2 separate regions of the Homo sapiens genome follow, and region 1 is linked to region 2. The links come from fine-mapping of genetic effects on gene expression. A gene starts in region 2. The other region holds a variant in brackets. All regions are shown on one strand. Distances are from middle to middle. Region 1 overlaps AQP11 (aquaporin 11). Region 2 holds the start of CLNS1A (chloride nucleotide-sensitive channel 1A).

Region 1 (2,906 bases), 26 kb after region 2:
CTGACAGAATTATGAAAAAAGGTAAACATATATTCCCACAAAATATAGCAGTCTAAGCCTCTAAACAGTACAAATGAGGACAGTGTAGCAGTTTATGTTCATAAAATTATGACCCTGCATCAGCCCAAATTATGATTGTAAATCCAAGTCTGACTAAGCAGATTTTTTTTTTTTTTTTTTTTTTTGAGACGGAATTTTCCTCTTGTTGCCCAGGCTGGAGTGCAGTGGCGTGATCTTGGCTCACCACAACCTCCGCCTCCCGGGTTCAAGCAATTCTCCTGCGTCAGCCTCCTGAGCAGCTGGGATTACAGGCATGCACCACCACATCCTGCTAATTTTGTATTTTTAGTAGAGACAGGGTTTCTCCATGTTGGTCAGACTGGTCTTGAACTCCTGACCTCAGGTGATCCACCCGCCTTGGCCTCTCAAAGTGCTGGGATTACAGGCGTGAGGCACCGTGCCTGGCCTAAGCAGAAAATTTTTATTAGAAAGCTATCTGGTAGCTCACTAAATGGACAGGAAAGTTGAAATAAGCCAGGCTCATAAAAAGATGAAATCTACATAAGATGTTATGATTCCTCCGCTGCTGTTAGACTGATTTCTTGATTGTCCCTGTGTCTGTGAGTCACCACACTTAAGATGCAAACTTCTGGTTGGCACTGTGTGTCTTCATTGCCAAGGGCAGAAGGAGTATCTGGGCCTTTCAGCTTCTACAGTGGAAGGACGCTGCCGCTGTGCAGATGCTCACAGTACCCCAGGTAAGAAGGATGCTTAGATGCTGGATTGCAAAAAATGTACAGCTGTCTACTACAACCCCAAATCTTTAAAAAAAAAAAAAAAAGCTGCTATTCTATTGCACAAGTGCAGGCATGGAATAAGCAAACAGTTGGATTTAATCAAGTTGAGGCTAAGCTCTGTGAGTATGAGATAGAGGAGCAAGGGAGTTAAGGGTGTATGCATGTGATGATGACTGGCCAAGTAAGCTGCTTAAGGAGAAGAGGGTACTTGAGAGGGGTGAGAGATGTGAAAAAGTGGTGTTATCAGTGGACAGAAGTTCCACATGGGGGTCAAAGGATCACTGGAGATGGGGTCCTAGAGAGACTGAGCTGAAAAGGGGTCAGTGGTTAGAGAGTAGGGTGTCTGAGTTCATAGAAGATTTCAGTTATTGGTAGTAAGTAAGTTCAAAGTTACCACCAAAATTGCAGCTGAGGCAAAGTAGAAGACAAAATTTTCAAAGGAGAGATCCAGTGAACTCCAAGGCCGTGCAGCTGGAAGGATCATCTTTGTATCTGTCACCAAGAAGTATAACTGTGGTGATGGTAGAGAGTGAGACAGGAACTAAGATCTGAAAGGAACAAAGGGAAATTGAGGGGACTGTATACTAGAAGACTGCAACAAGTACCCAGGTAACTGATGACATGTTTTTAATGGAAGAAGCAGAGGAGAATGGATGAGCAGCATCCCATGAGGACAAGCATCCATTGAGGACATTGAGGACAAGGAAATCTACTCTGCCTCCAGGCACAGTGGTATACTAGGTGTGGGAGAGAAAAGAGCCACTACTTGAGAGGGCTATAGAGGTAGCAGTGTCATCAGAACTCACAAACTCCAAAGTCTGACAGTGGAAGTTCAGAGGGCTAGGCATTTTCACAAATTAATACTCATTTTTCTTAACCCA[C/T]AGAAGTCCTCATGCTAGAGATGTAAAAAGGCATATTCCTATAAGAAAAACAGCCATGAAACAGTAAGTGAAACTTAGCTTCATGTTTGCAAGACGGGACCATTTTAAAGGGAACAACCATTATTTTGTGTTGTATGGCAGAATTCAGGCCTAGTATTGCAAGGTCTTTGGAGTTTTTCTAAGAGCAGCTAGAACTATGGATTTTACTTAATTTCGACTTTTTAAAAAAACTACTGTGAGGCCAAATAAAATAAGTCAGAGACTGCATTTAGCCATTTAGTCACATTTGTGAACTCTTTTTTTTTTTTTTTTTAAGATGGAGTTTCACTCTTGTTGCCCAGGCTGGAGTGCAGTGGCACGATCTCGGCTCACTGCAACCTCCGCCTCCCAGGTTCAAGCGATTCTCCTGCCTCAGCCTCCTGAGTAGCTGGGACTACAGGCGCTCACCAACATGCCTGACTAATTTTTCTACCTTTAGTGGAGACAGGGTTTCACCATCTTGGCCAGGCTAGTCTTGAATCGCTGACCTTGTGATCCACCCACCTCAGCCTCCCAAAGTGCTGGGATTACAGGCGTGAGCCACTGTGCCCGGCCGAACTCTGCTTTTTAAAATACAAAGCTGGCTGCCTTGTTGGGTAGACTTGGCAAAAGGCTGCACCTGTTCAGTCTGCAGGTATAAATAGAGTGACTGTCTACAAGCTGGTCACCAAGCAGCACTTAAATTACCTGGCAACTGCGACTACAGGTGCACGCCACCATGCCTGGCTAATTTTTATATTTTTAGTAGAGGTGAGGTTTCACCATCTTGGCCAGGATGGTCTCAATCTCTTGACCTCGTGATCCGCCTGTCTCGGCCTCCCAAAGTGTTGGGATTACAGGCGTGAGCTACCGTGCCCAGCCTTTACTTTCAATTCTAACTCTGATAATGGAATTTCCTTTGAAGGGATACATACTTAACCTTTCATGGCCTGAACTTTTAATAAAAATTAGACCGCATACAATAAAAGAAGCCTTCTAATATAGTAAAACTGGAAGGTTCTTTAAACCTCAAAAAATACTAGTTAATTTCTAAACAAGTTTTAACGTTATTATAAAGTATTTAATGTTTCTATGAACCCTTGATTTCCCTTTAGTCATAATCGTGACCGAGAAGAATTTTTGGATTGAAGTTGAAGACTAGAGATGGTATTTGGCTCTATGTGATCTAAGCCAGGGCAGCAAACCCATC
Region 2 (2,906 bases):
AATGGGTTCACCTTGCCTGTTGCCTAGACAGAGCTGATTTATCAAGATGGAAATTGTAACAGAAAAACAGTAATTCACGCAGAGCTGCTGTGCAGGAGACTAGAGTTTGTTGTTGTTGTTTTGAGACGGAGTCTCTCTCTGTCGCCCAGGCTGGAGTGCCAAGGCGCGACCTCGGCTCACTGCAAGCTCCGCCTCTCGGGTTCACGCCATTCTCCCGCTTCAACCTCCCGAGTAGCTGGGACTACAGGCACCTGCCACCACGCCCGGCTAATTTTGTTTTTGTATTTTTAGTCGAGACGGGGTTTCACCGTGTTAGCCAGGCTGGTCTCGATCTCCTGTCCTCGTGATCTGCCCGCCTCGGCCTCCCAAAGTGCTGGGATTACAAGCATGAGCCACTGCACCCGGCCTAGAGTTTTATTTTTACTCAAATCAGTTTCCCAGAGCATTCAGGGATCAAAGTTTTTTTGTTTTTTGTTTTTTGTTGTTTTTTTTTTTTTTTTGAGACGGGGTCTCGCTCTGTCGCCCAGGCTGGAGTGCAGTGGCGCTATCTCGGCTCACTGCAAGCTCTGCCTCCCGGGTTCACGCCATTCTCCTGCCTCAGCCTCCCCAGTAGCTGGGACCACAGGCGCCTGCCACCACACCCGGCTAATTTTTTTGTATTTTTAGTAGAGACGGGGTTTCACCATGTTAGCCAGAATGGTCTTGATCTCCTGACCTCGTGATCCGCCCGCCTCGGCCTCCCAAAGTGCTGGGATTACAGGCGTGAGCCACCGCGCCCAGCCAGGGATCCAAGTTTTTAAGGATAATTTGGCAGGTTGGGGAAGGCCAGTGAGTCAAGAGTGCTGATTGGTTGGGTGGGAGATGAAGTCACAGGGAGTTGAAGCTGTCCTCTTGCGCTGAGTCAGTTCCTGGGTTGGTGGGGAGGGGGCACAAGATCACATAGCCAGTTTATCCATCTGGTGGTGCCAGCTGATCCATCAAGTGCAGGGTCTGCAACATATCTCAAGCACCGATCTTAGGTGCAGTTTAGGGAGGGTCAGAATCTTGTAGCTTGCAGCTGTAATTTCTAATCTAAACCATAATTTCTAATCTTGTGGCTGATTTGTTAGTCCTACAAAGGCAGTCCAGTCCCCAGGCAAGAAGGAAGTTTGTTTTGGGAAAAGGCTGTCATCATCTTTGTTTTAAACTTCAAACTGTAAACTAAGTTCCTCCCAAAGTTAGTTCAGCCTATATCCAGCAATGAACAAGGACAGTTTGGAGGTTAGAAACAACATGGATTTGGGTAGGTCAGATCGCTTTCAGTGTCTCAGTTATAATTTTGCAGTGGTGGTTTCACTGTGACAATCCTGAGGGACTTCCCACAGAACCCTCAGTTATTGAAGCCCAAAGCCTCAGAAATGGCGAGGAAGAAGGGGAAGGGTGTTGCGCGGTCAAACTCCACACGTTCTTAGCCGACCTCCGCCGCTTTTCCTAGAATGTCTCATCTCTATGGTCGACGGCGTTCAGATTCCGGGGCAGACTAAGTTGTTCTTCCGGGGTGACTGCCTCTTCCAGGGCGGGCGGTGTGGTGCACGCATTGCTGTGCTCCAACTCCCTCAGGGCCTGTGTTGCCGCACTCTGCTGCTATGAGCTTCCTCAAAAGTTTCCCGCCGCCTGGGCCAGCGGAGGGGCTCCTGCGGCAGCAGCCAGACACTGAGGCTGTGCTGAACGGGAAGGGCCTCGGCACTGGTACCCTTTACATCGCTGAGAGGTAGGGTTCCTGGTCCCCAGCGCTGGCCTCCTGCGCGCCGCCCTCCTCCTTGCTGGAGCAGGCGGTGCGAAGGAGCCGGGCAAGGGGCGGCCTGGAGGCCTGCTGGGAGCGGGGTCTCGTGCCCGACGCCTCAGGGATACCTGTAGCGGGTGGAAGGCTCGATTTTTCTAGTACTCCTCCGGAGTCTTCCATTCTCTGTTTTCTCCGGCCGGAATTTCCCCTTATGGATTGTGCTTTTTTTTTTTTTTTTTCTTTTTTTCCTCTTTCTCTTTCTCTGTCTCTTTCTCTCTTTCTTTCTTCTTCTTTTCTTTCTTTCTTTCTTTTATTTTCTTTTTTTTTTTTTTTTAACTCGCCTATTTACTGGAGGTCTGGCGCGTGCGTTGCCCTTAACGCACGGTCTGGTTTTAAGGGTCTGAAGTGTGCCTGTCTTTCCGGATGAACAGATGCAGGAGATGTTCCCCTCTCTGGGATACGTAGTTTCAGAGCCGACTGTGGAGGACTTTTAAAGTTTGGTTACACAATAAAGATTTTCTTCTGTAGGTATAGTAAGGAGAGGAACACCCTTAACTCGACACAGACAGGGGTCATATGCAGAGGGACCAGACTCCCGTTTTGGGGTCCTGGAAGGAATTGCCCTTTTATTTGGCCACGTGGAGCACTTTGGTATTTTGACAGTCAGATAGATCTACCGTAAATATTGTGGTTGTAGAACAGAGGTCCCTGTTTCCTTGACATGCAGTTTTCTTTATTTTGAAGCCTGTAATGACACATCGAATCTTTCCTGCCCTTCAGATATGTGTTGCTTCCCCTTTTGCTCCATCACTTGTCTACAGCCAGAGAAAATTCTCTACTTTTAAGAGCTCATGTGATTACTTTGGAACCACCTGTAAAATCCAGGATAATCTCCCTATGTTACTGTCGACTGGTAACCTTAATTACGTTTGTGAAGTCCCTTTTGCTGTGTAATATAACATATTCACCCGCATGACACCAGAAAGTGAAGGTCGTGGGGCCAAAATTCTGCCTACTACAGAATCCAGAGCACAAAAACTGTAAAGAACCTCTGCTTTAAAGGGAAATTTAGACATTGAACAAGGTTTAGGCTTCAGGCCAGAAACTGAGATAGGACATATGGATGGGAGGAAAAGCAAGATTG

The links. PIP is the estimated chance that this variant, and not a neighbour inherited with it, causes the effect.
Region 1: its variant is fine-mapped to the expression of CLNS1A in whole blood (TOPMed, PIP 0.94).

The regions. Positions count from the first base shown.
Region 1 is chr11:77,610,150-77,613,055 of GRCh38, reverse strand. It overlaps AQP11 (aquaporin 11), which reads right to left. Exons shown (of 3, transcript NM_173039.3): 3 at 2,700-2,906. Among named protein-coding and RNA genes, the nearest start is that of AQP11, 22 kb to the right of the region's middle. The variant C/T (reference allele first, on the strand shown) is at 1,679.
Region 2 is chr11:77,636,434-77,639,339 of GRCh38, reverse strand. CLNS1A (chloride nucleotide-sensitive channel 1A) reads left to right here and starts at 1,546. Exons shown (of 7, transcript NM_001293.3): 1 at 1,546-1,750. The coding sequence starts at 1,626. RefSeq lists enhancers at 1,405-1,644, 1,299-1,818.